4 separate regions of the Homo sapiens genome follow, and all the other regions are linked to region 1. The links come from fine-mapping of genetic effects on gene expression. A gene starts in region 1. Each other region holds a variant in brackets. All regions are shown on one strand. Distances are between the middles of the regions. Region 1 holds the start of CERS6 (ceramide synthase 6). Region 2 overlaps CERS6 (ceramide synthase 6). Region 3 overlaps CERS6 (ceramide synthase 6). Region 4 holds the start of LOC105373734 (a long non-coding RNA gene).

Evidence for each region. PIP is the estimated chance that this variant, and not a neighbour inherited with it, causes the effect.
Region 2: its variant is fine-mapped to the expression of CERS6 in lung (TOPMed, PIP above 0.99). The same link has a PIP of 0.9 or more in whole blood.
Region 3: its variant is fine-mapped to the expression of CERS6 in activated naive CD4 T cells (Schmiedel 2018, PIP 0.95).
Region 4: its variant is fine-mapped to the expression of CERS6 in whole blood (INTERVAL, PIP above 0.99).

The regions. Positions count from the first base shown.
Region 1 is chr2:168,452,191-168,460,309 of GRCh38, reverse strand. It overlaps CERS6 (ceramide synthase 6), which reads right to left and starts at 4,038. Exons shown (of 10, transcript NM_203463.3): 1 at 3,692-4,038. The coding sequence starts at 3,861. It overlaps LOC102724081 (a long non-coding RNA gene), which reads left to right. Exons shown (of 4, transcript XR_002959433.2): 1 at 1-3,279. RefSeq lists silencers at 3,347-3,406, 3,857-3,986, 4,107-4,196, 4,227-4,446.
Region 2 is chr2:168,770,893-168,779,036 of GRCh38, reverse strand. CERS6 (ceramide synthase 6) reads right to left here. Exons shown (of 10, transcript NM_203463.3): 10 at 3,903-8,144. CERS6-AS1 (CERS6 antisense RNA 1) reads left to right here. Exons shown (of 3, transcript NR_045787.1): 2 at 4,086-4,216; 3 at 4,399-7,086. Among named protein-coding and RNA genes, the nearest start is that of CERS6-AS1, 11 kb to the left of the region's middle. The variant T/C (reference allele first, on the strand shown) is at 3,926.
Region 3 is chr2:168,544,924-168,552,923 of GRCh38, reverse strand. CERS6 (ceramide synthase 6) reads right to left here. Exons shown (of 10, transcript NM_203463.3): 2 at 5,223-5,328. Among named protein-coding and RNA genes, the nearest start is that of MIR4774, 34 kb to the left of the region's middle. RefSeq lists enhancers at 1,608-2,178, 2,179-2,750. The variant T/C (reference allele first, on the strand shown) is at 3,265.
Region 4 is chr2:168,414,654-168,422,797 of GRCh38, reverse strand. LOC105373734 (a long non-coding RNA gene) reads left to right here and starts at 1,043. Exons shown (of 6, transcript XR_923559.3): 1 at 1,043-1,405; 2 at 6,600-6,695. LOC102724081 (a long non-coding RNA gene) reads left to right here. Exons shown (of 4, transcript XR_002959433.2): 4 at 145-367. The variant G/TG (reference allele first, on the strand shown) is at 4,438.

The DNA of each region.
Region 1 (8,119 bases):
GGTGAGAGGACTGCTTGAGCCCAGGAGGTGGAGGTTGCAGTGAGCCATGATCATGCCACTGCACTCCAGCATGGGTGATGGAGGGAGAACATGTCTCAAAAAAAAAGAAAAGAAAAAAAAAAGACATTCAGCCGCTTCAAAGTTTCATCAGATAATAATTAGTAATTTTCAAGCACAGATGATCCACAGGAATCAAAGAATCAGGAGGGTGAAAACAATAAGTTACAAAGGCCATTTGCCTCAACACATAAATGAGAAAATAAACAGAGATAAATTAGGAGGCTGCCCCAGTGTAAGTTTTGACTAGAATTTGAGTGTTCTGATTCCCGATCTATACTTCCTGCATCTCTCCTAAATCCACAGCATTAAAGTTAACATTTGTAACAATAACTCAAAGAATTTTTATTTCTAAAGAGATTCAGCACAATTTCCACATTTATAAATACCACAGCAAAACACATTTTTGAAAAAGTGAAGTTGGAAGAAGCATTTATTATAGTTCCTGAGAATGGCTTACTGAATCTAAACAAGCATTAAATCAAGAAAATTCATCAAACAGATGACAATGCTATATTATTAATAAATAACATTTTGTTCTTTGTGATCAAGTTAACATAATATAATGGTATACAATTTTTATTCTAAGAGAATCAGCCCAGTTGGGGGAAAAAAAAAAACCCACATACTTTACTCTGTCAATCAATTGGTCGCTACAGTGGTCCTGGTCCTTACCCGGAGTTAAGTATGGTATAAAGGCTATGCTAAAAACCACCAAGCTTTGAGATCTTCACAGACTCAGCCAAAAGTCATTGACCTTAGGCTGCCCCATTTTTTACCAACCATGCTGGGCTTCCATATTGCTGTCCATATGCTGTCATAAAGTGACATGTTCTGGCTACCAATGCCTCCACTATCCACACCACAACAGCCGGGATGAAAATAAAAAGAAAGGACTGTTTAACTGGGCAAAGCCCATTTCAGTCAATTCTTTGATGTTTCTCTTAGTAGAGAGAAATACCTAAGACTGAGAAGAAGGCATTCAAATTCACGATTTTAGCCTCAACAAGGACATTACTGACTTCACTTAATGTAAAATAAAGACTTGGATAATCGGGTATTTCTTAGGTATGGTCTCAGCTTTGAAATAAATGACAAAGCATACAAAGAGAAGAATCTTGAGAGAATTATTCCTATTACAAAAGCATTTCATTCTACAAAGGGATTCACAACAGGCTTTTAAAATCATCGTATACATTATAGAATACTGCAAAAGAAAAGGATGTATATACAAAATGCTAGAAGGCCATTGAATGTGAGTTGTAGCAGTGATAATACTGAATGGTTCTGTTTTATTGATTCAGGCCCTTGATGGATGCTACTGAGATGAAGGTCACAGGTTGGATCCCAGAATATGTCATTTAGGTTTGAGAAGAGGAGAAACATGCAGAACTTCTAACTCTAGATACAACTAAATTGTGGATTTTCAGAGAATTGAGAAGGTCTGAATGGTTAAAGACAGAGCTATCATAGGAAGAAACAAAGTAGATAGTCTTCCAAAAGTCAGTAGCATTCTGTGACATATGTGCCATATTGGATTATTATTCTGAACATTAACCATAAACTTTCACTTTCCATACAGGCCATTAAATCTCTTCTACTTAGATCAATGGCCTGAAGGAAACTGACCAACTCACTTTATATCAATATGAGGACATTTGCTGTGACTGACAATTGAAAGCAGCTCACCCCTCTATGTAAACTCTAAGTCGAGTCATGGGATTATGGAAAAAAAGAAAGAAAATAAAAAATGTTTAGAAAGAGGAAAAATGAACTTCCAGTTTTCAACTATCACATTAGTGTTTATCTTTTTAGAGGCAGAGACAATCTAAGTACAAAGCCATCTCCATTCTAACAACTTAATTTTTTTAAACACAGTGAACAGCCTGGAATCAGCATAGAGAAGGAGGATGTCAGGAAAATTCGGCTGTTTGTGCACAGATCATGCTTTTGTTCTCCAACACATAAGACTGCACATCTCTTTCAAATGCATTATCTATCTAAAAGTGAGCCCAGCCAGAATTTATCAGACACAATTTATCATAATTCAGCAATTGTGTGTAGATCCCCTACTATGTGCCAACATAGAGCAAACCTGCTATCCCTGAGTCTGCTTGTTTTTGGAGAGCCTGCAAAACTGTATAGAGTTCATATTTTCTGTAACCAAACATTTGCTCTAGAGGTAACTCTACACCTGCAAACACACCCATTTTTTCACAGCACTGCTGTGACTTTTTTGATCCTTTTTTGTATAGGATCAATGACACATCTGTATTAGATTCCAATAATTTAAACATAGGTCTTAAAGTCTGTTGCTTTGTGCATGTCAATTTCTGCAGGCGAACAGCTGACTTCGTTTTCAAGCAACAATACTGTCCGGTGAAAAATATACCTTCCTGAGACAAAAGATACTTTTTGTCCCCATGAAGCTTTGTTGCCTCGTCCAGCAGCAAATGACTCAAAAGACGCGTTCTGCCACCCTCAACAGTCGTTTTCAGGCAAAGAGGAACAGCAAATGAGGTACCAGCAAAAGCTTAAGAAACAAAACCAAGGTGAGTTGAAGGCGGGGAAGAAAGGCGGAGTGGAAGCGAGAAATGCAATCTAAACTCTACTTTGTGATCTAAGAAATTCAGCCTTTACTGATGAATTGGGCAGAGGAAGGGGAGGGTACAAGAAAGGGGAAGATAATATTTTCTGTTACGAAAAAAAAAGTGTGCTGCTGTCCTGGTTTTCTTTCAGTAGCACCCAGAGAATGCATGGCAGGCACAATCTAGTTTCGCGACGAAAACGAATTCCATGAGAATAACACAAGTTTGTATGTGACACAATGGAGATATCCAACCAAACCGAGGAACTATACAATTGCATGACAATTCCTCAAAATTTTAAGTGCCTTCGAGTACCAAAAAAGAAGTTTATGATTATTCACAGGACAGGGTTATCAGTTTAATATCACCATTTTGCAGGATGTGGACCCGTCCTGTCACATCCTCTTTTAAAGAAACCGCTAATAACCTGAAATGCTATTATCCCCTATTTGCCAGGACTGTGGGCCTGATAGTTTCACGGATAAAAACCAAACAGCGACCAGAAGCCAGGAAGTCCCTGGCGAATTCTTTTGAAGCACAACCCCTACAATCCGTGTGCCGGAGCATAAAGATTGAAGTGTGCGCGGTTCCTCCTCCCTCCGGGCCGCGCGTCCGGAACGTTCCTGGCTGTCAGGTGGGTGGCGCGGGCCCCGGCGGGAAGCCCTGCCTGGCAGCCTTGCGTGGCGCGCCGGCGGAGAGGGGCGAGCCCCGCGGAATGCGGCGGGTCCTGAGCCCGACCACCGCTCACCTTTGTTCGCCTGCCCTTGCCGGGAGGAGAGCAGGGCCCAGGAGGAGGGCAGGGGGCGACCCTAACGCTCCGCGGCTCCTCCCCGGCGCCCGGGAGGAAATCCGTGGCAAGCCAGACCCTTTCTGGCTCCCAGAAAGCCAGCGGGGCAGGGGGGTCAGCAACCCCTCCCCGAACACAAAGGTTGGGAGGCGTGAACGCGAGCGTTGGGGGCGCGGGGGCGTGCGCCAGAGAGCGCGCGAGTGTGTGCGCGCGTGTGTGTGCGCAGGGGGAGGGGAGGAGGGGCTTCAGCCCTTCTTACCTCTCGAAGATGAGCCGCACCATGAAGATACAGAAGGCCAGGGGAAAAGCGAGATAGAGGTCCTCAGCCTGCGGGAAGGTGGCCTCCTCCGTGTTCTTCAGGTCCGCCCAGGTGACATTGTGCGGGAGCCAAAACCTCTCGTTCCAGAACCAGGCTAAGATCCCTGCCATCTTGCTTTGTCCACTCCTGTCCTGCGGCACCCGCAGCCCGCCAAGCTCTCCACCGCGCAGGGCGCCCGGGGATGCGCGCCCGGCTGGCCCCGAGCCTGTGCCGCCGCCGCCGCTGCTCCCGCCCGCCGCCGCCGCCTCCTCCGCGGCCGCTGCTCTCGAAGGCTCGCGGCGAGCCCCGGTTCTCTCCTCCCTCTGGCCGCGCTGGGGAAAGGGGCCGCCTTGCCCGTCACATGGCAGCTCGGGCCGCCCGCCCTGATTGGCTCGTCTTCGCGTCAAACAGCGAGGCACACACGCGGCCAACTCGCCCACACCCGCAGGGCAGGGCGCAGTCGCTGCGCCCTGGGCGCAGGGGCACCGCTCCGGGGAGTGTCGCCCGCCCCTGCTCTCACCGCTCTTTCGCTTTGCGCTTAGGGCGACGACCTAAAGTCGACCCCCCAAATCCGCCCTAGCCCCCTGGCTGGCTCGCACATGCTCAGAATGCTGGCTCCTGCCCCGCTGGGGTTTCAGGGCTCTCAGTCCTCTTCCCGTGCGCCCGGAGGCGGTGGGTCAGCAGGTAGGGGCTGCCGCCAAGCTTCAGAACCAGCCCTGCTCCAGGAGGACAGCAAAAAAAAAAAAAGGGGGGGGGAGGGGGAGGGGTAAAGAGCAAAGGAGGAAGTGGGAGGGAAAGGATCCTCCACTCCCGCGCTTGGAGAGGCAGGGTGAAAAATCAGGAACTGAGGCAGGATGGTTTGGCAAGAGCCTTCTGCCTCTGCCCCACGCCTGCCTTTCCCCAATCTTTGACTTTCCGGTCTTTTATACTGCTGCTTCTCATCAAAGTAGCTCCCCCAGGGAACAAGCCCCCCTATATTGATTTATGAGGTGGTACAAAAAATTAGGCACTTAATTGCTATTTGATTATTAATTGCTACTTGATGACGATGATGATGATGATGATGATGATGATAGCAACTGCAGCGTTCTGTAAAACCACCCCTCTCAACTAACCTCTCTGAAAAGGCTGCTAGACCACATTTTGACCTGGCACATCATGAGAACCTCCACTGTGCTACTCGGCAGGCTCATTATTTCTGCCTTTTGAATCTAAAACCTTTAAGGCATTAGGCCTGTGAGGCCTAACCCAGGCACCTTCCCTCCCGCAATGCATTTCCCCATTGATACAGGAGCCATGTGTGAATTCATTCCATGGCCCATGTATACATGGTTCTGGGGCATTTTTGTTCATTTTTCTCACATTCATTTTCTGCCTGGTGCTGCCAGTAGGCTATACTAAACCTTTCCAGTGGGCATATAACCGCACACACACACACACACACACACACAGAGAGAGGGAGTTTCTTTTACTCTTCCCTCCCCTCTTTCCACTCTATCTCTTGAAAGTGAAACTGAAGAATGGCCTATACTGGTGCTTCCAATTTCTCTCCCCTCATTTTCTTTTGAACTTCCATTTGGACATTTGTCTCCTCTGCTGCATTGAAACTGCCCAAGGTCACCTGTGATCTTCATGCTGCTAAACACAAAGGTCAGTTCTTATCTTAGTCCAGGCTGCTTAGACTAGGTGGCTTAAACAGCAGAATTTATTCCTCACGGTTCTGGAGGCAGGGAAGTCCAAGATCAACATGCAGGCAGATCCAGTGTCTGGCAAGGATCCTCTTCCTGGTTTGAAAACAGCTGTTTTCTTGTGTATCCTCACATGGCAGAGAGCACAGAAAGAGGAAACACAGATTAGTGCCCTATCTTCTTATAAGGGCACTAATCCCATTCATGAAGGTTCTACCCTCATTAGCTAATTACCTCCCAAAGACTCTGTCTCTGAATACTATCACATTGGGAACTAGGATTTCAGCATATGAATTTTGGGGGACACACACATTCAGTTCATAGCAGTTCACAACACCTCTGTCAGTAGCATTTGGCCCAGTTGTCAGGTCGTGTGTCTTAAAACATTCTTGACTTGGCTTCCAGAAACCTCACTCTTCTGGGTTTCTTCCTCCTTCATGGCCATTTCTTCTCAGTCTCCTTCCTGGTTACTCCTCACTTTTCTAACCCCTAGAAGTTATAGTGGCCTAGGAGTCAGTCTTTTTTCCTCTTCACTTTTCTATCTGAATGTATTCATTTGGTGATTTTATCCAGTCTCGTGGCTTTTAATGACATCTGTATGCCCTCCAATGTCATGCTAATAGCTCCCATATTTATATCTCTAGCCATGAACTTTTTCCTGACCTTCTGACTCTTAAATCCACTGGCAATTTAACACCACCACTCAGATGTCTAAAAGCTATCTCATGACCAAACTATTAATCTTCCCCTTGAAATCTCTTCCTCCTGTAGTCTTGGCTCAAGCCAAAAATGTGGAGTCATTTTTTCCCCTTCTCTCTTTCTCTCATACCTCCTTTCCAATCCATCCCAAATCCCATCAGCACCATTTTAAAACCATAATCTCACCATCTCTCACCACCTCCCCTGCTACCATCTTGGTCCAAACAACCAATACTTCTAATTCACATTACTCCAGTAACCTCCCAACTCCCAGTTTCACCCTTTGCCCCTCTACAGTCTATTCTCAGCCAGTGTGATCCTATGCAAATTTGTCAGATCACCCCTGGGGTGAAAACCCTGCTTCTTCCTCATCCCTCCCAAGTGAAAGCCAAATTATTCCAATGACCTGTGATATTTGGTTCCGTATTAACTCTGACTTATTTACTCTTCTCTCTCCTTCACTCTGCCTGAGTCCACACTGGCCACCCTGCCCTTACTGGGACACACCAGCTATGTCTTAGAGCCTTTGTGCTTGCTCTTCTCTGTCCCTGGAACTCTTTTTACACGAACATCCATGTTTGCTCTGTACTGATGTCATTTTCTCCCTGAAGCCTTCCCTGGCCACCCTAGTTAATCTACATCCCTCAATCCCCACCACCACTCTTCCTATCTTGCTTTGTTTTTCTCCAAGACACTTACCACCGTCAACACAAGATATATTGTACCTATATCTTCATCAATCATCCACACAGACATGCACTAAAATGTAAGCTTCAGAAAGTTAAAAGATTTGTATTTATTTTATCAACTGTTCTATTCCTAGCACTTAAAAAAAAAAACTGCCCGGCACATTGTAGATACTCAATAAACTACTGAATAAATGAATCAACATTACTCCAACCCCAAAAAGTCTTCTCAAGGAGAAGAAAAAAAATCTGAATAATTGTGTTAAATATTTATATATCCATGTTAGACTCGTGTGTAGAATAGTGTGGGCATAAAGAAGGAATTGGTCAATTCTGGGGTGAGGGAGGTGAGGTGTCATTGAAGTGAGTCTTCATTTGGGAGTAGAAGTCGCCATCACCACTCTAGACCATGTGGTGAGCTTCTCAGTAACACTGGAACATGCCTTGGCACCAGCTGCATTCTCGTAGGCCATAGACAGAGGTTTGTTAAGACCTCTCACCAACTTTGTGTCCGAAAGTCATGTCATGACATGTCATGACATGTCAGAGCCTGGCCTTCTGGGCCAGCCAGACTTCTTCTGTGACTACCCCTGGTTTCTCATGTCACTCCTTCCTGTATGACCTGATAGTACCTTGCTTCCTACTCCATGGCTTCTGTGCTCTCCAGCAGCTCCTTCTATGTCCCCAAGCATGTATAATACTGTTGGTGAGTTAATGCCCTGGGATCTGACTTTGATCATGGGCAATGAAGACAGTAAGTACATTTTTATTCCTTTCCTCCCCACCCCTCGGACACACACAATGGCTTCAAACAGCCTCTCTGAAAATACCCCCTGCTACAAACCCATCATTTTATTTCAAGATTGTGACCCACTCAGTAACTCACCCCCTGATATAAACTCATCATTTTATTTCAAGATTGTGACCCACTCAGTAATTCACCCCCTTATATTTCCTCTCCTCTTTCTCATCTCACTCTCCTTTTCTCTCATTCCTGCTTCCCTGAAACTACACTTCCCTGGAACTTAGAAGCTAAACTAATAGGAGCTAAACTAAGATAATGTGGCTCTCCCATTCATCAACTTTGAGAAGGTGGTGGGATTTCAGGAACATTTTGAAGGGTGAGTTTTGTTGGACAGTAAAAGGAGGATTTAGTACTTTCTATGAATCTTCCATAAGTTCCTTTGTTTCTAAGAGCGTGTTAATACCCTCCTGTGTGATTTGTGCATCAACAGTACCTGTCTTGCCTCTGTCACTGACTGTCATGAGGCTCACATAAGATAACATATGAGAAAGGGCTTGTAAACTATTCTTCT
Region 2 (8,144 bases), 320 kb before region 1:
TCTCATGGTTCTGAGCCACCCAGTCTGTGGTATTTTGTAATGGCAGCCCTAGCAAACTAATATTCCTTGTTTATTTTTTAAAATAGACTTTATTATTTTAGAGCAGTTTTAGGTTCACTGCAAAATTGAGAGGAAGGTACAGAAATTTCCCATAACCCTCGTGCCCCCACACTTGCATAGCCTCCCCCATTATCAACATCACCCACTAGCGGTACATTTGTTATAACTGATGATCCTCCATTGACACATAATTATCATCCAGAGTCCACAGTTTACATGAGGGTTCACTCTTGGTGGTGTACATTTTATGGGTTTGGACAAATGTATAATGACATGTATCCACTATTAAAGTATCATATATAGTAGTTTCCTGGCCCTAAAAATCTATTCTGTTTATTCATCCCTCTCTCGCCTGCAACCCTTGGCCACCACTGATCTTTTCACTGTCTCCACAGTTTTGTCTTTTCCAGAATGTCATATAGTTGGAATCATATAGTACATAACCTTTTCAGATTGGCTGTTTCACTAGGTAACATGTATTTAAGTTTCCCCATATATTTTCTGTGGCTTGATAGCTCATTTCTTTTTGGTACTGAATAATATCCCATTATCTGGATGTACCACAGTTTGCTTATCCATTCACCTACCGAAGGACAACTTGGTTGCTTCCACGTTTTGGCAACTATGAATAAAGCTGCTATGTATGTATAAATTTCATCCATGTATGGGTTTTTGTGCAGACATAAATTTTCAACTCCTTCAGGTAAACTCCAAGGAGTATGATTGCTGGATCATACGGGAAGAGTATGTTTAATTTTACAAGAAACTGCCAAACTGTCTTCTAAAGTGTGTGAACCATTTGCATTTCCACCAGCAATCAACAGAGTTCCCCTACATGCTTGTTAACATTTGGTGTTGTTAGTGTTCTGGAATTTGGCCACTCTGTGACATTTGTAGTAGTATCCCATTGATGTTTTAATTTGCATTTCCCTGATGATATATGATGTGCAGCTCCTTGTTTATTTGTTTTTTGCTTCCCTTTATTGTAAGTTCCATAGAAGTAGGAACTTATCTGTCTTATTTATCATTCTGTCCTTAGTGTCTACAATAATTCCTGGCACCTAGTGGGCTCTCTATAAGTATTTTTGAGTGATTGAATTACGCAGCCAGGGAACTGAGCCTTTGCTGTTTATTTTTGGCTCTGCAGATATTTTATATTATTCAGTAAGTTAAAAAAAAATAAACTTCTTACCTGAAGATGTGCTTCAAAACTTAGTCATGAATGCTGGAGCATAGACCTTCTTGCCTTGTTTCACAACTGTTTCATTCATTCTCTAGTTCTTCATGTCCTCTCTCTTCAGTTCCTCTTAGCTTGTTTCTAGCCACTTCTCTAGTCTCAGTCCTGCATCTCCCTCCCGTGATGCCTGGACTTGGGATGCTGGTGTCAAATCCCCTTATCCAAGCCTGCCATAAAGCCCCTCAGCTTCTGTGCCTGAGGCACCAGTGAGAGAAGCGGAACCCACACAGGGAAATCCTGAGTTCAGAAAGAGTTGGAGACAAAGTACTGTCTCCTGCTTGTTTCCTAATAGATGGAATGTTAATTGCTAACAGCTCCCATCTTACTAGTTCTCTCGTAACTGGGTTCATTTGTTTCTTCGACAAACATTTCTTGTGTCCTATTACATGCCAGACTCTATGGGAGGCTCTAGGAATACTGGCTTTATGCTGCTTATTTGGTTTGCTCTCCCGCATCTATTGTTGCTGTGCACCATGGGAGGCTGAACCCTGTAGCCTACGTCCCCCAGGCTCCGCACTGTCAGCTTTCTGCTGAGTCCAGCCAATGCGTGGTATAACAAGGCAGGAAGAGAGAGACATTGGGGTATTTTCTTTCCATCCAGGTTTGTAGCCCCCAAAGAGTGGCCTCTCTTCCATACTAGCCCCTCTCACTGGCCTCTGGTTACAACCCAGGGGTGGTAAAGGCTTCCCATACTTGTTAGCCTCTGGGTGCCTCACTCTCCCTTGTTTGATGTAATCCAGCCCATGCCTCTGTAAAGTCATCCTTTTATTAAAGTTTCTTCAACTTAACCATCTGACAGTGACTGTTTCCCACCTGGACCTTGGCTAAGGCAGACTTTATATAATTTTTAAATTTCAGGCTGGGTGCAGTAGCTCATGCCTGTAATCCCAGCACATCAAGGCCAAGGTGAGAGGATTGCTTGAGGTCAGGAGTTTGAGATCAGCCTGGGCAACACAGCAAGACTTCACCACTATGAAAAATTTAAAAAATTAACTGGGTTTGGTGGTGTGTGCCTCTAGTCCCAGCGACTTGGGAGGCTGAGCTTGGGGGGATTGCTTGCGCCCAGGAGTTTGTGGCTGTAGCAAGCTATGATCGCAACACTGCACTCCAGCCTGGGCAACTGAGAGAAACCCTGTCCTTAATTTTTTTTTTAATTAAAAAATTTAAAATTTTAATGTTTAGGAATAATATAACTTTTGTTTCTTTGTGCTCCAGCACTTTGAGAATAATTAAGGGTGTGGGTCCCAGGATCCAGTTACTGTGCTAATTGGTTCTGAGGGACCACCCAGCATCCCAGTAGTTCTTGGTACACAGCTCTCCCCCTTTGTTGTCCTATCATCTCTCAATGTTGTTAGCATTGTTGCCACTGTTCCCACTGAAGCAAGAGCACGGCTGGTGGAAACAGAATTAGGAGGCAGGAATAACAGATGCTTAGGTTGGATATGGCAGCCCCAGTAGTAAGCAATGGGGCCTAGAGAAAAGGGAGTTGCATTTTGGCTACTTGGGAGAGATACTGCTATAGTTCGAATGTCCTCTCCAAAACTCAAGTTTTAAGGTAGGACCTTGTCCTTATGCATGAATTAATGCTTTTATTTCAGGAGTGATGAAAGGATGAGTTTGGCTCAGTTTCCTCTGTCTAGCATGCTTGCTCTCCCATGTGGCACCTTCTGCCATGTGATGACCTTCACCAGTTTCCAGCACCATGCTCTTGGACTTCCCAGCCTCCAGAACCATGAGCCCAATAAACTTCCATTCTTTATAAATTACCCAGTGTGTGGTATTCTGTTACAGCAGCAGAAAGCAGACTAAGACAGATGCTTATAGCATTAGATTATGCTATGTTTTGTAGAACTGAAGAATTCATGGATTCCAAAAAAGTATATTTTTTCATAGTCTGTATTTTTGTGTCTCAGAGGAATGTTGGTGGTTTAACTTATTAGAATAACTCATGCTTGAAATCAGCATGAGTTATTCTATTGTTGGGGGTGGTTATAATGTTTATAAGATTTTAATAGGGTATCTGCTTTATTTTTTATAATACTTGTGATAGTGGTGGGGTGTCTGGTTGAATTTCAGTGCTATTTTTACGGCTTTTGAGTACTAGAAGACCTAAGCTTAGAGCAGAAGAGCAGATTGAGAGAGGTATTTCACAGGAAAGACAGAGAAAGATGGAGAGAAGTTCTAGCAAAGTGAGGTACAAACCAAGAGAAGATGATGTGGGCCAAACTCCGATGAGGGGTGCATACACAGAGAAGGGAAGTTTTGTGTTGTGCTTTGGGTGTTTATCCTAGGTGCCTCTTTTAAAATTTTTTTAAAAATAAGCATAACCTGATATATTTCAGATGATCTCTATAAACCATGTTTTCCAGAATAAAGTGCTACATAAAATTTAGCATTGAGGTTTTAATCTTAATTTTCAAAGAGATACTACAGTCTATCCAAGTTAACGTAACATTACTTTCTCAATGATCACAATGATACTGGGAGTTGACGAGGCTTGTAACAATCTACTGGGATGATGTGAGCCTTTATTAACCTCATCAGGTGAGATGTGATGTTTTACCCACACGAGCTGGTTAGCATTTACAGTAAAGGGCACTTACACTGCACTCTTAATACTTATCTTTA[T/C]TATGAAAGTGTTTCCAAAGTAAAATGATCCTCATAATAATGATTGCTTCCAGAGATCAAGAATGAATAATTATATTTTCATATAAAAATCAGCAAAACACAATAACAATACATAAAATAATTCTAATTGGCTAACAGTATTTCATTCCATTTCTGACAGAGATGCTCAAGCACTGAATTGTCTTAAGAAAACAAGTAAGGTTTTGTCACCTATCCTATTTCTCACTGCAAGTTGAAAAAAATCAAATCCAAACACCACCACCCCTTCTATGACAACAAACGGCTGTGGAGGTAAATGACTATGTGGGCAAAGAGTTGATGAAAATCATGAGCTTAGGGGCTTTATGAAACTTTGGGAAATCAAACTCAGAGGTTGTTTTCCATTCTTAAAGTAATGAAGCTCTAAGTTAAAGTTTCAGAATCATCACATAACTGTTCCTATTCCATAACTCATTTCTTTTTTTTTTTTGCAGGTAATCTTATTTTCCTAAGGGTAGTTTCATGATGACAGTGTCAAAAAATTACTGTGGATAAAGAAAAAATTGTCTCAATGAAATAGAATTTTTCACTGAACACAGAAACCATCTCAATAGTTGCTGCTCCCTGGTTTCCAGGCCACGCAACAGACATCAAACCAGGAAGCCAAACTTTCATGGACCTGTGTTAAGAAAAACACACATACATGGGCATACTACTTTTTCCAGAAAAACGGAATTAGGCAGAGAAGGAAGTGTGGGTGTACAACTGATCCACAAGCTATTGGGAAATCAATAGCTAAAAAATGTCCACACCCTGGCTTCCTTTTATCAGGAACTCCAGGAGGCTGAAGGAATGTGAGTGCATGAGATAAGCAAGACAGATCTTAACGGTCCCCTCACATCCCTTTCTGGGCAATCTCCAGAATGCCTAGTTTTGTGGAGACACCATGTACTATCTGGCTGCAGAGACTTTCTTAGGTCCCGTGTTAGACCCCATGGGGTCTCAGCATGTGGTCATGTGGTAATGCATTCCTTTCAAAGGCTTTGGGTTGAACTCAAGTTGGAAATACCTGGAAAAGACCAAGCTTCTCCTTTGGGTGTCTGCGGATCCTATTAAAAATATTCGTGATGTTTTAAGTTCTCCAATACAATTTTCTCCACGAAAACAAGCATCAGATACACTACCTCTAAGTATTTATTGGAGGGGTTCCAACAGCCTCGTGGACAGGCCTTCTCAGCAGCTACTGAGTGCCCCCTAGGGGTGGGGAGGGGCCAGTGCACATGGAGGCAAACCACAGAGCCCTTTTGTGGCCTATTATTATGAAGAACTAAAATGTGGCCAGTGAACCAGTCAGTGCTCATCACTACGGGGTACTTTGACAATGGCACAATTTCATTTTACCAAAAGAAACCTTCACTGGCTCTGGGGACTGCAATATCTTCATTTTAAAATATTTTGCTGCGTTTTCTTCAAGGGCGGCTTGTGACAACTGAACTGCTGATTATTCCTTCCATGGACAGCATGGTAGTGGCAAGTGCAGTAACTGGGCTCATTGCATTTTCTCTTTCCATACAAGTTACTGCAACTGCCATGTGATCACTTTTCCAGCAGGCTGACTTCGATTTGATTTTTTTCTTATTTAAATGTTAGAAACATCTCAGGGCTATTATTATTTATCTACAAAGCAGAAATCAGCCAAAGACAAAGGAAAAAAGTAAGCTAATCAGAACCTGAAGACCTGAAATACCACATGAAATGTAAACATTTAACTTTTTATTTCCAAAGGATTTCTTGAAGCCTCTCTGGAGATAATGACATCACCACACATACTGTTAAACAATCTTTTAATACCTTTGGAATTACTCTTTATAATTTTTATACTTCAAATTAAGAAAACCGCCCAATGTTCAGGCAACTTTGGCATTAACATTTCCAAGAAAGGGACAAAAACAACTATTAATGCAACATCATGAAGAGATTGGGGACAATTGTGGGTGTCTATAAAGCTCTCTTTGAAAAGCTCTTTAAAGCGAACTCAGGTAAATGGAAATGAAATCTGACTTTTTACTTAGGCCAAATAACAATGAGGTTTGAATATAAAATGGAAGATTCAGGCCCTTTCTACCTAAGATGAAGGCATTTAGTTTGCTCAAATTCAAACTCCACCAAATACTCTGAATGGAAAGTTTGGCAACAGAACTGGACATGTGGAGGTTCACCAACCATTTTGATCAAAGGTGATCTGATTTTATCTCACTTCTTGCCTAACCTTTCTGGCTTCTTTACCTTGACTAGATGCCTGTGGCATTATATAATGATGCAGCCCAGCAGAAGTAGGATGCTAATAAACCCTGGGGTAAAGCAGCAATCATCTGCATTTTTACCACATACACTTGAATAATCCAAAATACTGAGAGTTGCTTCCCTATGCTCAACATCCATAGGACCAAATTTGGAAAGGTGAACTGTAGTTGGCTTATATGCTGGCCTTAGGTGCTCTTATGACCTGTGCTTAGCCATATTTAGCTCACTGGCTAAGAGGCTGAAAAGATTCTACCACCTTCAGGTGTGTGGGGAACATGAACAGGAGGCTGACAAACAAGGAGGGAAGTTTCTATTGTACCTGGTGAGTGGGTTTTATGAAAAGAATATGGGTAGGGATGAGTCAGTGATATTTTGGTTTTATCACTTTTTGGAGAAACATACATATATATACATAAATAGAACACATGTTTTTATATCATTTATTGACCTGAGGCCAAATTCTACTCGATTTTCTACTTTCCCCCTACTAAGAGATCCAGAAAAGCTATTAACATTAGAGAATAAAGTATTACTTCTTCTGGAATCCTTTCTACATACCCCTTTGTACTCTGGGAAGGTTTGAATGTGACCAGGAAGGAGGAGATATCAACACAGGCTAAGTTAATTAACGAAAAACAGCATTCTGACTAACCTATAGTTGAATTTACAAAATACACTTCAAAGCTATGGCCTGGTACAGGGGGAGGATGAGATACTGCACATATTTTTCTCTCTCAGCCTTATCAGGCTACCATGGGAAAGCTATAGACAGAGATATATTATTCTTCACCATAAAAAGCCTGCAAACCCCATTTTAATTAGCCCCAAAGAACTGTGCCCTAAAATGTAAAATGAAATAAAAATCTCTGGATAACATAGACGACTGTGTGAAGTGAATGCCATCAGTTAGAGAGACCCCAAGTGTTCCCAGTTCTCCTTCTAAGTAACTTCTGGGGGGAAAAATGATTGCTTAGATTTGCCTTTGCTAATGACAGACCCCATTTACTACGTTTTATGCAATTCTTCTAAACCTTTAATTTACAAGATGACCTCCTTGAAATTATTCTTCTGTGCTCGAGTGTCATATGATCTAAACCTGAACACATGGATCTCTAAAGTTAATTTTAGCCATTGAGAGGACTTGCCCCAGACACTAAAGCAAGCTAAATATGTTCATATTTTAATTAAGAAACTTTTACCTTCTCAAAATTTTCAGCTGTAATATGCTATTACCTTATACATATACTTGCATTTTAGCAGATGTTCTGGAGACTAACAAGTCCTTTTATGATTGTTCTTACAAACTCAACCATCCACAAATTACACTCCTAGACATATGCCTGTTTTGTGAAATAAAATAACAAGGCTCTAAAAGCAGAATTATTTGCATCGTTTTCTCAATAAACAAGCAGATGTATTTCTAAGCCTCTTCAATTATTACTAAGGACCATAACAGAAACATATTATTTTGTAAATAAGTAGGGCAAGATATAATATTACGGTAAGAATTTTTTGGTTGGGAACATTCTTTTAACTATTAACCCACAGATTGCAAATTGTGGGCAAAAAGCTTTAATTTTTTCCAAGAATTGAATTAAATGTGAATGGTTCTGAGCAGGATACGCACTCTCTGGTGTTTCTGCACGCTTGTTAGCATTTCTGCTGTTGTCTTCACAGCCCTGATTCACACATTTATATTATGGCATTTTTGTTTGGGGTTCGTTCTAAGTGATGGCCTTCTTGATTTATGAAGGGTTTTATAATCCCTTTTTCCTCTTACTAAAAGTTAGAAGAAGAGATAAAATCTTTGGCTGACATATGGTTTTCTTATCTGTACATAAATAACACTGCTATGTAGGAGACTTATGGAAACTTATTCTTCAGTAATTTTCCTCATTGTTGATATTGCCATTGTCCAATAGAATTTTTCATTTTT
Region 3 (8,000 bases), 93 kb before region 1:
GCCTCTTTAGCCTCATTATTCTAGTGAAAATTTTGTTAACAGGAGTTGCTATACTTTCTTTTTATTGTCTTTGATATTGTGTGAGTTGCTTCTTTATTAATCATCTTTGAATTAGTTGAATTTTCTTGACCTGCTACTTCCAGTGTGGGGAGCAGGAAGGATGCTCTTCCAGTCTGGCTGCCATGAAGGGAGATGGACTCCTGAAAACATACCCTCCACGTGGCTTTATGTGTCCCTCCTCCACTCTTGCCAGCCTGGCTCACCTGTTCCTGCACCTATTGTTGCAAACAGTGGGTGGTTCTTTTGTCTCCTCAACTCTTGAGAAGTGCTTTTGTGCTGGCTTTCCTGACACCCACCCCCACACGGCCCTCCAGACACACTTCATGCTTTTCACTTCCTCATACTTGGTTTCTGCCCAATCTAGGTAGCCTTTATATGTTTTGAAATCTAGAGATATGCATCTCCTAATTTGCCAAATAAGACATTTGTGAGATTTTCTTTCATTTTTTCTTTCTCTGTGTTTGTGTGTGTAGTGTGTGTGTGTGTGTGTGTGTGTGTGTGTGTGTGTGTGTGTATACTCTGTATGTAGGGTGGGGGTTTCTTATTGTTCTTTCCTTATTATTCTCCGTAAGTTTTTTTGAAAGATTTCCAGGCAAAGAAATGAATAATGGAGACTCACATAAACATTTATATATTACAAACACCTAGGTTAATATTAATAACATTAATCTTAACCAGTACTGGGAGGCAAAGAAGGAAAGTATAAAATAAAAATGAAAGGAAATAGATTATTGAGGAGAATTAGGAAAAACAAATTGTAGGAAATCTGCCTATCACTTTAAAATTTACTCTAACATACCAAAAGTTAATTTTATTATTTCCCTGGATCATAAAACCTGGCTTTATACCTGACATATATTCTCACCCCCATGGCTTAAGCACTGATTTGATTAGAAAAGTGAGGTAGTTAGTATCATAGGTATGTACAAATAATATGGTAGGAGAATCCCCAAAAGTTAAAAGCATATTTACCCAGATAATTCTGAATATAACCAGTTAAGAAACAACATAACCAGTTAAGAAACACGAGCTCAAAAATATTCACTAAAGAGAAATAATCATTCTGTTCATTTGAATGGGTCTGACAATCCGTAATTGTAGAATTTTTGGTCCCATTCCAATACAGTTGAGGAGAATCTATAGAAACATGACGTAACACTCTACATTTTAACTCTCAGGTAATCTTAAATGCAAATCAAAATATGGGAACCAATGAGACAAAAGATGCTATATCATTTACTGAATGATTTACATGATTATTTAACCCTCATGAACGCCTGTGAGATGGTTATTCAAAGATTTTTACAAATGAGCTTCATGATTATTTAACCCTCATGAACGCCTGTGAGACGGTTATTCAAAGATTTTTACATATGAGCTATCTGCAGCCTAGGGACGTTAAGAAACTCACCCAAGGCCACAATGACGGGACGCAGCAGAGCTGAGGTTCCAACACAAATATCCAGGTGTAACTGGCTCAAACACCAAGACTTCTAATTGACATTTACAATAGGAGTAGTTTCTATAAAGTGTTTATAAAATTTTAGACAGGGGATGGGGGAGGAGAGAGAGACAGGCAACAGGAAGACAGGTGTTACTTCAAAAGGAAAGACTGCTACAGAATATATAAGGGTTCAAATTTTTCAGCTATTAATAATTTCACAAAGGAGAACCAGATAGGGCATGTGACCTGTGCTGTCACACAGGGACCCCCATTCAGAAGGGTCCACATTTGGGGTTGGAAACCCTGCAGTCACCATCTTGAAATTCTTAACAGTTTTATCATGGAATTTGTGCTTATTATAATGAAGTCCAATGGGGCAAAGGAGCATGTGCCAGGAGCTTGGATTCTTGGCTCATACACAGTCCCACCACTTCCGCCAAATGTGTGTGTGGTTGCCCAGTTCCTCATCCCCTGGCTTGTAGCACTCACCAGCCTCCCTGTCTCCCCACTTCCTAGTGACTGCTGCTGCCTTCAGCCCCCAGTGGAGGGCCGAGTGCAAACACAGAGAGTGGGGGATCGAGTTTCAGAGAGGATGGAGGCAGCTACCCCAGTGCATGTGGTGGGCGACTCGGTAGGGCTGAGCCTTTTGTGTAGCCCTGAATCTGGGCATAGAGGTTGCAATGCACTTGAAGGTCCTTCATCACCCATGGGTTGGGGCAGTGGGCCTGGAGAGAGGCCTGACTGTATTTCTCTGCTCCCCTGACCAAGGTACAGTGTGTCAGCCAGTGGCTGGAGAAAAGGGAAACCTGGCAGCTGGTGGGTCATGTGCACACTAAGTCACAGGGTGGGGCCCCCAGCTACCTGTGAGGGTCTGCACTTTCTCCAAGAGTCTCCCCATGCCATTAGGGAACATGACATTACACGACAAATAAAAAACACCTTGACCAGGCATGGTGGCTCACAGCTATAATCCCAACACTTTGGGAGGCTGAGGCAGGAGGATTGCTTGAAGCCCGGAGTTCAAGACCAGCCTGGGCAACATAGTGAGGCCCTATCTCTCCAAAAAAATTTTTTACATTAGCCAGGTGTGGTGGCCCACACCTGTAGTTCCAGCTACTTGAGAGGCTGAAGCAAGAGGATCATTTGAGCCCAGGAGTTTGAGGCTGCAGTGTGCTACAGTTATGCCACTAGACTCCAGCCTTGGCAACAGAGTGAGACCTTGTCTCAAAACCAAAAACAACAAACAAAAAAACACCTTGACAAGTAGAGAGAGACTGAGGGAGGAAGGAAAAAGCTTTATGTTTTTGTATGCTTAATGGCACTTTTTTTGTGCTTTTTGAACAAGGGGTCCCACATTTTCATTCTGTACTGGGCCCCACAAACTATGTAGCCAGTCATATACAGAGATTTTAAGGGTACCTCTCTCACACTTGAAGGATTATAATCATGCCCTTCTACAAAAAGGCAGCTCAAACCGTGGTAAGGCCAGGATACTGGATGATCATTCACACACACACACAAACGCACACTTTGTTCAAGCTCTCCCAAGTCCTGCCCCTCCTATTCCAGTCAACTGATTGGTTACATTTCATATCACAATTAAGACCGGAGAACTACAAAGAATACAAGGGAAAACAGTTCCAACTTTTGCTGCATTTATATTTTACATGACGCTTCTGTTTTAATCATGTAAAAACCTCCAAAGGAATCACCTTGGAAACTAAAAGAATATGATCATTCAAATTAGCTAGAAGCAAGTA[T/C]TTGTTTTTGTTTGTTTGTTTGTTTTGAGACAGAGTCTTGCTCCATTGCCAGGCTGGAGTGCAGTGGCGTGATCTCTGCTCACTGCAACCTCCGCCTCCTGGGTTCAAGCCATTCTCCTGCCTCAGCCTCCCGAGTAGCTGGGACTACAGGCACCCGCCACCACGCCTGGCTAATTTTTGTATTTTTAGTAGAGATGGGGTCTCACCATGTTGGCCAAGGTGGTCTCGATCTCTTGACCTCATGATCTGCCCGCCTCAGCCTCCCAAAGTGCTGGCATTACAGGCGTGAGCCACCACGCCCAGCCAAAGCAAGTATTCTTTAGAAAAGTCAACCTGGCTGCAAAATCTTTTTATTACCTTTATGGAGGAAATTTCTCCAGTAACTGTAAAAAACATAAGGCAAGGGAAGTGAAACATCCACTGCAGGATTTTTAAGGAGAGGCATCAAATGTGGAGAAAACAAAAAACAAAATTAAAAAAAAAACACCTCATTTTATTATTCATTTAGAATACTGTATGTTTAATGTACTTAGAGTAGTTCACAAAGAGACTCCAAATATGTTATAATCACACTTACAAATGAACCTGAGAAGTCCCTACACACCTGCTTTTTTAAGAGGGAAAAAGTTGTTTCACTTAAGTAATTTGATACACTAAATGAAAATGCAAGCTTTTTCTTTACATTTTTTTCTTTTAAATACTGTAAGATATGTGTCCCTTCAGACAGGAACCTGGCAATCTGAAATTACCCCATAAAAACCATCAAAAGAGCTTTTCCTAAAATTCCATTCATTCTTCTCTTCTTCCTAGCAGAGATATGAAAAACACCTGGTACTTTCTTAATTTTTTGAGGGAAAAACATTTTTAAAAGGACAGAGGGAAAAACTCTAGAGAATTTTGGAAGAAATGAAGACCATAAAATAGATAAAAGTGTTTGGATATCTGAATTAATAGTTGTAAGACGAGATAGCTAGTACAAATGGCTAGAAACACAAATACCAAGAAAAGAAATAGAATTTGCTTAATTCTGTCAAATCACATCTTGGAAGCCTGGGTAATTCTCCCAGAAAAATGAAAGGGAGAAAATGAGCCATTTAATATATGAACACACAATACTTCTCATAGAATGTTGTATTTCTCCTGATCTTTTCTTCTTTCTTGTCCAAACAAGAATAAGGTAAGATATATAAAAACTCGGTAATTTGCTCTATTTTCCTATGGCCTTCAACTGAGGGTTTCTGACTTCCAGCTTTCTCCTCCCTCTTTGTTCTGAAGGAGATCTGAACTTGGGATGGGGGCAGAGGCAGGAGACGTGGTCTCTTCTACCCACTTCTCTCCCACTCCCTTCCTCCCACTCCTAGTTTGGGCTTCAGCTCCCACCAGATTGAGTATCTCCTCCCTTTTATTCTCCACAGTGAACCTATCTCTTCACTTAAGACTCTCCTGACCCTCCTTCTTCATAACTTCATGGTACAATCTTTTATCCTGCAGTTATGCCTTCTTGTTGTTTTTGTTTACATTTGTCTACTTATCACAGCTCCTAGAATCTATGGACAATGCTACAAGCCAAGAGGTCCCTTTTTTCGCACACACATAAATCACATTCTTCAGCTCCACCCAGTCACCTCCACAAAGTCCCTCCCAGCCCTCATCTTGCTTCTAGTCACATCTTGCTTCACATGTGATTAAAAGAGGCACAGAATTAGACTAATCATTATTTAGTCAAGACTATTCTCAGGTGAGCTACTAAAAATCAACTTGAGCGTAAACTACCAAGTCTAAGACAAGCCCATCTTCATTCCGCTTCTACTACGCTTGCATTCCTTCTGACAACACGTTCTCCAGCATAAGGCTAGGCAAAAGTTGATTCTCCAAACCCAGAAGGGGACAAATTGAATGACAGCAGGCTGAGAATGGTGACCGGGGACAATCTATACCCCAGGAAAGGACAATCATACCTTTGTAATTGCAGTGAAGACCTTTTCCAGAATGGCATTGGGCGGAGCAATTTGTGGTCCATTGGCCTGAATGTTGAGGGCTATGGCGCACGGTTTGGCTACAAATCTAAAAATTACAAAAAGAAAAAAGTAGAAGGTCAGAATTTATTCTTTCTATGTGATTCTTAATGCCACCAGTTACACATTACTCAATTATCCCAATAAAGTGTTGGTAGGATTTCATGGGTGTACATTGTCAACACTCCTGTCAGTAACTGTAAGGCAGACTTAACCGTTTTTCTCTCTGTTAGCCCCCAGCAGTAACATTAAAAAAGAAATCCTTTTAAAACATTTAAACCCTCCAATCCTCAAGTTCTAATGAGACAAAGCTAGAAAGACTATGAGATGAAAATATAAGTGTATAAGATAGAAATAAAACAATGATTTCAAAATAATATAACTTATACTCTTCTTACACAGAGCAATAGTCATATTTTTACTGTGAGAAAACGTTTACTAAGCATCTAATTATCCATGCAGAGAGAGCGCTTTGACCACCCGTAGTCATAAACTTGGCAATTTTTGTCTCTATAATCAAAGTGTGCTAAATTCAGCCCCAATCCCTCATGGCTTCTTAAAATTCTCTGCTTTGTGGTTATTTGCTTGTTTCTCATAAAGAGTAATGAAGGATGTCGAAGGGCATGATGTCCCAGACAAGATGAAAAGTCGCAAGTGTTTATGAACATCCACAAAACTGTTTTTATCCTAAGCCAATGCCTACGTCAAGAGGAATGGGAGGACTGAGCCTTCTTTCTGGTCGCATTTGCTGTGTGAATGAGGTGCTGAAGGGGAGCAGGTGAAGTGCATGGGGCCCCAAAGGTGTGGGGACATTGCTAATAAAACTGTGTAAAACAAAAAAAATTAAAAGTTGTTTTAGACTAAATGCTCAAGAAATAAAACTCTGTAAATATTCATTTTCAGTAGTAACATTTAATATTTTCTACTAATACAGGATAATTTCATATCATGTGAAAGTATTACCCAAATTAATTCACTGTTGGTCAAAGGCAACAATTGATAAATATGCAAAACAGACCATAATTAAATCTTAGATGAAGCTTCCTTAATAACAGTTGATGAGATTAAAGAACAGTAGACAAAGGTTTTTGTTTTTAAAGTAGGACCAATGAAACTTACATGTAAAGTACCACATAATATCCTACTGGGTCCTATTTCAAGTAAAAGTGAAGAAATTTATTTAAACAGGAAAATGGAACATTGTACACGTGCAAGCCTAAACCAGGAAAGATAAGACAGAGAAAATGCACCGTAATACCTGGTACACTGGGCTCTCTGGGACAAAGTTGGGAAGAAAGAAGAATCACCCCTTCCCGATATATAAATCCTCTAGAAACTGGAGTTTTCCCCAAACTTCTACATTCTCAATTCTGTTTAATGTAAAATTTTCTGAGCTGCATTACCTACATCCCTACCTTCTTGACAGTAAGTATAACCTTTTCCTAACGACTCTGGCCCTTCTCTATAAATGATAATCATGGGGCTATGGCTATAGTGATGAAAGAAGGAATTTAGTGGGCAATGACCACAAGACAGAGTCTAGAACTTGTTTCCTTGACAAGGTTTCCTGCTTTGTGGTTATTTGCCCCTCATCATAAGGTACAACAGAGCGGGGTGAAAAGACATACGGTCCAGCAAAAGCAAACAGTAAGACCACAAAATGCATTTGGTGTGAAGGACACAACTGTTCCAATGGTTTCTTTCTAGTCTTTCCAGTTGGACTCCTCCCCGCCCTCCCTCATCCTCCCCTTCCCACACCTCTGACACATTGTGTTCACATTCCCTTCCGACTTTGTCATCATCATCCTTGTAACAGCCTGCTGTTCCAGTACAGTCTTCTTTCTTCATCTAAATAGCACTGAGTCTCAATGCAGAAGCTGATCATTTCCTCTTTGTATGCCCTGTGACAATGCCTGTGCATACACAGGAGGGGGTCAAGACATTTAATCAACTGGTTGTCTTCAGTAAATATGTTTTGTTGTTGCTATCACGGTGTTGAGTGCTGAGGACAAGTTAGCAGACATTCTCTGTGTGCCCTGTCACAATGCATGGGCAGGCAGTAGGGGAGTCAAGAAATTTACTCAACACTGTCTCTTCAACTTCCTCACCTCTGTTATCAGCCAAAAAAAAAAAAATCAAAAAAAATTTTTAGTATTTGTTATACAACATAATGTATACATCTCTCCTTCTCTTTTTAAGCTTCAAACCACTTTTAAAACTCTATTTTCTTTAAATTCCAAGAATGAATGCAACAGCATACCACTTAATTGACAACTTATCAAATTTCAATAATCAAAATTATCAAATAAATATGATGCTTTGTTAACATATTTTTACAGCAATGTCCAAAGGATAGGGTGGGAATTATTTCTGCTGCTATCTGGCTATGGAGATTTAGCTACAGGAATTAATCTCTCTCTGCCTTAATCTCCTCATATGTGAAAAAATTATTATAATTATATATGTACATGTATGTGTTTCTACAAATACATGTATGTGTTTCTACAAATACATGTGTGTGTTTCTACAAATACATGTATGTGTTTCTACAAATACATGTATGTATTTAAAAATCATATCATAGAGTCTCTTTGCCTAAAATGTTTGACAGGAGCCATGGGTAAGGTTTCATATCATAGCATTTACAAACCATGACTTTCCTGGGCCCAGCGGCTCACCAGCCTCAGCTACACTGAAACAAGCCATGTGTATTCAAGTTGT
Region 4 (8,144 bases), 38 kb after region 1:
AGGAAGAAACTTCAGACTTCCTGGGGATTTTCTGGTAAACTCTGACTAAAAACTAACTCCTCTGATTGTGCAGCAATGTTCCCTGCTAACATAGCCTTCCTTTTGGACTACCAGCTTTTTTTTTTTTTTTTTTTTTTGAAACAGAATCTCACCTTGTCACCCAGGCTGGAGTGCAATGGCATAATCTCAGCTCACTGCAACCTCTGTCTCCCAGGCTCAAATGATTCTCCTGCCTCAGCCTCCTGAGTAGCTGGGATTACAGGCGCCCATGGACTACCAGCTTTTTAAGTAGACTTTTTAGCCAAAGGCCAAGGGAAACTACCCTCTTCCTACTGGGGTTCAAATTGATTAAAATGGTTTGCTTTGACTTTTGTTGAAGTCTCTTTATTTTCTTTTTAAGATTATGTTAAATTATAATCCACATTGGCTTTCTTTTTACAGGTAAACTTTTTCTCTTCTAGATTTCTAGACGGCCTTCCCCCACTTCGCTTCTCTCTCTGCCATTTTCCTCCCCTCTCCCGCCTCCCCAAGTTAGAAGAGGCTGACAAAAAGAGGCTCATCAAAGTTAAATGTTGCCAACATAAATTGGTCCCTCTTCTCTTCCTTGATGTGACTGGTCTCTCAACCTATTGATGGCATCCAGTTCCAACTTTCCTCTTCTCATTTGGGACATTGGGAGGAGAGTAGTCTCTATTTTTAATAACAAAGTAGTAAGTATGTAATGCCTCTCTTGACTGTGCAAAAGACCAAAACTGGAGAACATTTTATGCTTTGATTTTCTTTCTCTTTGTTAAAACTTAGATAAATTATCTCTTGGGAATGGAATGTTCCAGGCCTTTCTGTTTCATCCTCTCTTAGTAACAGTGTATCGTTGTGGGTTTACAGGTGAAGAAAATATCATCAAATGACAAATGGCCATAAAGATCTCTCACCCAGATTATCTAATGGTTTTACTTATGCACAGAGACTGTAGGCTCTGACTTTTTAGAGTTTTATAATCCTTTTAATAACACTTTTTTTCATTTATAGAGAACTACAGTCAGGCAGGCAGAGTATTTTCTGATTTGGATGAGTTCATAAGACATGTACATTATGGGAATTATATGATTGCTCCACCTGCATCACATCTGGACCACCTCTGGACTGAGCTGTAGGGATGCAGGGAAACCCTGCTAAGTGTCAAGCTGCACCCTGTCCTGCTGGTGCCCATGCCTAGACCCTCATTCCATTGTTCACAGAATTCTATGCCTTGGGATTTTGTCTCTACTTGTCCAGAACTCCTAATTCCTTCACTCTTCCACATTCTAGGTCCTCCTCTATCAATTTAAGTACCAGATCCCTGTCAGCTGCCTTCCCCAGACATTAAGTCAGAAGCTCAGTTTGATGGCAGGGTGTGTGTTTCCAGGTATGGAAGGGTCATGGGGGAAGCCACCACTCTCTCTGAACATATTCCCACCAAATGGCGATTATTCCAACAATTTCTCAAAGTATATGTTAACATAATGATTTTTAAGACTTAGTAGAAAAGCCCTTAAAGAAGTGAAATATGAGAATGAAACATGGCGATGAGATCATGAATTGAATAGAGAAGGGAGTTGAAAAGTTCAGCCAACCCATCCCTTCTGCACATCCAAAAGTAGGGTTCAGTCTGGGGGACTTTGTGTGCTTGGCTTCACACAAGAAAGAAGTCAAAAGCGATCTGACAGAAAAAAAGCAAGAGGAAGTTGAATGAAATAAAGGAACAAAGGGAAGACTGCTCCATAAGCAAAGTAGGGTTACCCCATAGGCAGAATAGCATTGTGGGCTGCTCACTTGTTATATTTGTGATTATTTCTTGATTATATGCTGAATAAGGGATTGATTATGCATGAGTTTTTTGTAAAAGGGGCAGGGAACTCCCAGAACTGGGGTTTTCTCCCCAGTTTAGACCATTCAGGGTAACTTCTGAGTGTTGCCATGGCAACTGTACACTGTCATGGCACTGATGGGAGCGTTTTTTAGCATGCTAGTGAATTATAATTCATGGATAATGAATAGTGAAGGTCACTTTCACTCCACCTTGGTTCTAGATGGTTTATTTATTTATTTATTTATTTATTTATTTATTTATTTATTGTTGAGACAGAGTCTTGCTCTGTTGCCCAGGCTAGAGTGCAGTGGTGAGATCTTGACTCACTGCAACCTCTACCTCCCAGGTTCAAGCGATTCTTCCGCCTCAACCTCCCAAATAGCTGGGACTACAGGTGTGCACCACCATGCCCAGCTAATTTTTGTATTTTTAATAGAGATGAGGTTTCACCATGTTGGTCAGGCTGGTCTTGAACTCCTGACCTCGTGATCTGCCTGCCTCAGCCTCCCTAAGTGCTGGGATTACAGGTATGAGCCACTGCCCCCGGCCTGGTTTCTTTATTGTTATCCTCTTAGCAGCAGGGGCTTGTGACCTGTTGTTTACTGTCTCCTGTCTTATCAGTGGGGTCATGTGGCCTGTTGTCTTGGAGACTACGACTGCCAATTCCTATCTCAGTTCTGTGGGCTGCCAGGCTCAGTCCAGGGTGGATAGACCAGGGACAAGGGTCTGCTCTGAGCATCTCACCTGCCCGAACTCATGGCATCTTCCTACCCTTCCCTGCTTTACGTCATCCTCTCTGAACTTGCCTCTTCCATCCTGTTGACTTGTGGTATGTGCCATTCCACTACAAATCCAACCAAAGTCACACTCTTGTTCCCCTCAACCTCTTGCCCCACAACTCATAAGACACAGTCATTCCTTTAAACTGGGCTATAGTCTGGTTGGAAACCCCCATGAGCAGAACTTAAAACAAGGAGGGCAGGAGAGATGGCAAAGGAAGACTGTTTGGCCCTGACTTCTTATTCACAAAGAACTCATAGATTTTTAGCCTGATCTTTTATTGCGGCATTACATACAACCACAAAGATAATGACAGGATTAAAAGACAAACATATTCATCATAGAAATTTACATTTTTGTCTTTCATATGTCTACTATGATTTCATATCTTTCATGATTTGTAGCTGATGACTAGCATACTTACTTTATTATAATTTGTATCAAAAGCCTACTGTTAATTGTAAACAATATATAATCATTGTAGGTCTATTTTGCTATTTCATCATTTTTAATATGCTAGAGCCTCAGGAAAAAAAAAAAAGAGGCGGCCCAAATTTCTCTTGTTTTCTGAGTGGCTCTATAATAATATGACAATATATGATGAGCACTATTGCTACTCAGAATTTGAAGTTAGCATGGACTGGCATAACAGAAGATAAATTTCAGGAGAGATGAACTTTAGTCTTTCCCTCTTCTACTGTTATTATGCCTTACCAGAGATTTTCACCTTTTTGGCCTCTTACACAAAAAGAATGTAGTATTTTCTTACCACTGACGTCTTACCTAAGCCTCAAGGGAACTGGCACCTCTGCTTCATTTGCTATTTACTCTCAGCTCACTAATGCATCATGCCCATGCTCTGTTAGCTGGAAGAGTCTGAGGAGTTGCAGGAAGGAGTCTCTCGGGGTAATTTTTCTCTATCCTCTCTCCTACCCACCCTTCCACCCCCACCACAACCAGAATCAAGTCTTTCTAAAAGAACTCAAAGAATTCCCCACAATGAACTTGGCTTTCAGACCCTCTCTTCTGTTTTTCTTTCCATACCTAACCAGTCCTGTTCAGAAAAGTGATCTGATTATTCTAATCAGAGACCTTTTAGAAAAGAAAATTCTAAAGACACTTTGGGCATTTGATCTGCATATGTACATTGTATGAAAGCAATTTATAAGTACCTTTTTAAAACTTTGCTTACCTGTGAGAGATTCAAAGGGAAAAAGTTACAAAGAGTAATAAAGCAGATGTCTTATTTGGCTATTTTGAATTACACATTTTAAATATTTTGTCCTGGGACCTGGCATGGTACCTCACGCCTATAATCCCAGCACTTTGGGAGGCTGAGTTGGGAGGATTGCTTGAATGCAGGAGTGTAAGACTGCAGTGAGCTATGACTGCACCACTGTACTCCAGCCTGGGTAATAAAGCGAGACCCTGTCTCTATAAATCAATCAATCAATCAATAAATATGTTGTCTCATTGGCTCTTAATCTTTTATTTATTTAAGAAATAACACACTACATATATAGATCAGTGTTCTTTAAACCCTATCTCCAGGATTATTCCCTCCCCACTTTCCACACCCTTCTCTACTTGTGTGTTTGAAGTGTTGTCTGTTTTCTTCCAGTCTATTCTGCAAGAGAATTACATTAATCTCCATGTAGTTTTACATATATCTAAATATAGATATGTGTACCGATACTTATGTACACATATATACTATGTCTGCATTTTAATGCTATGCATAAGATAAAAATACATGTAATATTTTCTTTTTTTTTCTTTCTTTTTTTCTTTTCTTTTCTTTTTTTTTT[G/TG]AGATGGATTCTTGCTCTGTAGCCAGGCTGGAGTGCAGTGGCACGATCTCCGCTCACTGCAACATCTGCCTCCCAGGTTCAGGCAATTCTCCTGCTTCAGCCCCTCAAGTAGCTGGGATTACAGGTGCCTGCCACCATGCCTGGCTAATTTTTGTATTTTTAGTAGAGACAGGGTTTTGCCATGTTGGCCAGGCTGGTCTCAAACTCCTGACCTCAAGTGATCCAACTGCCTCGGCCTCAAAGTGCTGGGATTACAGGCGTGAGCCACCGCGCCCGGTCATATTTTCTTTTATATATGGTTAATATACATAAACAGCATCATCTTGAATGTATCAATCTCTATCTTGCCTTTCTTTTTCAGCATTGCTTTTGGTGTCTATTCATATTAATATTTATAAAGTTAAAGACCTTTTAAACTACCACTGAATATTAAATTGCATGGATATAATACATTTCATCCCTTCATTCCCTCATTGATGGTCATTAAGGTTTTTCCACTTATTTACTGTTAACAGTGCTTCCATGAATATCCTTGATGTTTCTCCTTTTTGTAATATCTGTGTTTTTCTAGAGAGTGTACTGAGACATAGAATTAATGGATTACAGGATATGTATATTTTTACGTTTACTAGATGCTACCATGTCATATTCCAAAGCGTCATACCAGTTTCTGCTCCAGTTTCTATTGTCCTTTTAAAATTAATCTGTAGGACTTCTATATACATGACGTGAATATTAATCCTTTGCTAATTATTGTGCTAAAAATACTTTTCCCAGTCGTTTGCTTTTCTTTCAACTTTTTTCATAGTGTATTTAACTATGTGGACATTTTAATTTTAGCATAGTCCAACTTATCATATATTTTTCCTTTTAATTGATGGTTTTTGTTTTATTTAAGAAATACGTAACTGTTACATTTCTTATTCAAAAATTGCCTTGACTATTCATGTACTTTGACTCTTCTTTATGAATTCTGGAATTAGCTTGTCAAAATTTCTGAAAAATTATTTTGTAATTTTTATTGGAGTATATTGAATTTATTGATTAAATTGAGAAGATATTTTAAATAATAATATGTCCTTTCAGTTTTATTTATTCAAGTTGTCTTAATATGTCCTCTAAAAAAGTTTATAATTTTCCTATAAAAATCCAACTTTTGAAAAATTAATTTCTTGGCATTTTATACTTTGTGCTGCTCTTTGGAATGATTTGGTGTAAAGAAATTGGTATAAAAATACTATCGATTTTTTTTTAATTTATTTTTTATGTTTTAAGTTTTGAGACAGGGTCTCGCTCTCTCACCCAGGCTGGAGTACAGTGGCAAAATTATGGCTCACAGCAGCCTCAACCTCCTGGGCTTAAAGGATCCTCTCACTTCAGCCTCCCAAGTAGCTGGGACCTCCGGTACTCACCAACATGACTGGCTAATTAAAAACTTTTTTTTGGTTTGTTTTTGTTTTTTAGAGATGGGGTCTTACTGTGTTGCCCAGGTTGGTCTTGAAGTCCTGGGCTCAAGTGATTCTCCCACTTTGGCTTCCCAAAGTGCTAGGATTATAGGCATGAGTCACCACATCTGGCCTCACTGAGAAAATTTTGCTGAGTTATCTTATTCATTAAAATAGTTTTTCCACTTCTTGTCCTGACTCTTGATAAGATTATCATATCATTTGCACATAATGACAACTTTGTCTCTTTCAGAAATGAACAATGTGGTTAACTTTTAAATTTCCAAACCACAATAAATTGAATAATGCTTAGTCTAACTGATACATTCTCTAATATTTTTACTGCTTATTTTCTACATTGACTAGGACTCCTAGGACAGTATTGAAAAGTTATGGTCTCCTCACTCTAATGGAAATACTTTAAAAGTTTTATCATTAAATCTATTTGCTGAAGGATTTTTAAAAAATATTCTTCTCTTATTAGGTTAAGGGATTTTCTTATTTTCCTAATCTGCTAAAAAAAATTCTTTTCATGAGTAAGTGTGTGATATGGTTTGGCTATGTCCACCCAAATCCTATCTTAAATTGCAGCTCCCATAATCCCCACATGTCATGGGGGGGTCCTGCTGGGAGGTAATTAAATCATGGGGACAGGTTTTTCCCCAGCTGTTCTTGTGATAGTGAATAAGTCTCACAAGATCTGATGGTTTTATACAGGGAACATGCTCTTTTGCCTGCAGCCACATAAGACATACCTTTGCTCCATCTTTACCTTCTGCCACGATTATGAGGCCTCCCCAGCCACATGAAACGGTGAGTCCGTTAAACCTGTTTCCTTTATAAATTACCTAGACTCTGGTATGTATTTATTAGCAGTGTGAGAATAGACTAATACGGTAAATTGGTACCAGTACAGTTGGGTACTGGTGTAAAGATAACTGAAAATGTGGAAGTGACTTTGGAACTGGGTTACAGGCAGAGGTTGGAACAATTTGGAGGGCTCAGAAGAAGATACGAAAATGTGGGAAAGTTTATAACTTCTTAGGTACTTGGAGGACTCAGAAGACAGGAAGATGTGGAAAAGCTTGGAACTTCCTAGAAGCTTGTTGAATGGCTTTGACCAAAGTACTGATAGTGATACAAACAATAAAGTCCAGGCTAAGGTGGTCTCAGTTGGAGATAAGGAACTTGTTGGGAATTGGAATAAAGGTCTCTCTTGCTATAGAAAGAGACTGGCGGCATTTTGCCCCTGCCCTAGAGATCTGTGAAACTTTGAACTTGAGAGAGATGATTTAGGGTATCTGGCAGAAGAAATTTCTAAGCAGCAAAGCATTCAAGAGGAAGCAGAGCATAAAAGTTTGAAAAATTTGCAGGCTGATGATGCAGTAGAAAAGAAAAACCTATTTTCTGAGGAGAAATTCAAGCCTGTGGCAGAAATTTGCATGAGTAGTGAGGAGCCAAATGCTAATCGCCAAGACAATGGGGAAAACATCTCCAGCACATGTCAAAGATCTTTGTGGCAGCCCCTCTCATCACAGGCCCAGAGGTTTAGGAGGGAAAAATGGTTCCTTGGGCCAGGTCCACAGTCCCCCTGCTGTGTGCAGCCTTGGGACTTGGTGCCCTGAATCCCAGCCACTCCAGCTCTGGCTAAAAAGGTCCAAGGTACAGCTCATGCCATGGGTTCAGAGGATGTAAGCCCCAGGTCTTGGTAGCTTCCACATGGTGTTGAGCCTGCAAGTATACAGAATTCAAGAATTGAGGTTTGGGAATCTCTGCCTTGATTTCAGAAAAATGTATGGAAATGCCTGCATGTCCAGGCAGAGGTGTGCTGCAGGAGTGGAGCTCTCATGGAGAACCTCTGCTAGGGCAGTGTGGAAGGGAAATGTAGAGTCAGAGCCCCCACACAGAGTCCCCACTGGAGCACTGCCTAGTGGAGCTGTGAGAAGACAGCCACCATCCTCCAGACCCCAAAATGGTAGATCCACAAACAGCTTGCACCATATGCCTGGAAAAGCTGCATACACTCAACACCAGCCCCTGAAAGCAGCTGGGAAGGGGTCTGTGGCAAAGCCACAGGGGCAGAGATGCCCAAGGCCACTGGAGCTCACCTCTTGCATCAGTGTGACCTGGATGTGAGACATGGAGTCAAAGGAGGTGAGATCATTTTGGAACTTTAAGGTTTAATGACTGCCCTATTGGGTTTTGGACTCGCATGGGACCTGTGGCCCCTTTGTTTTGGCCAGTTTATCCCATTTGGAGCAG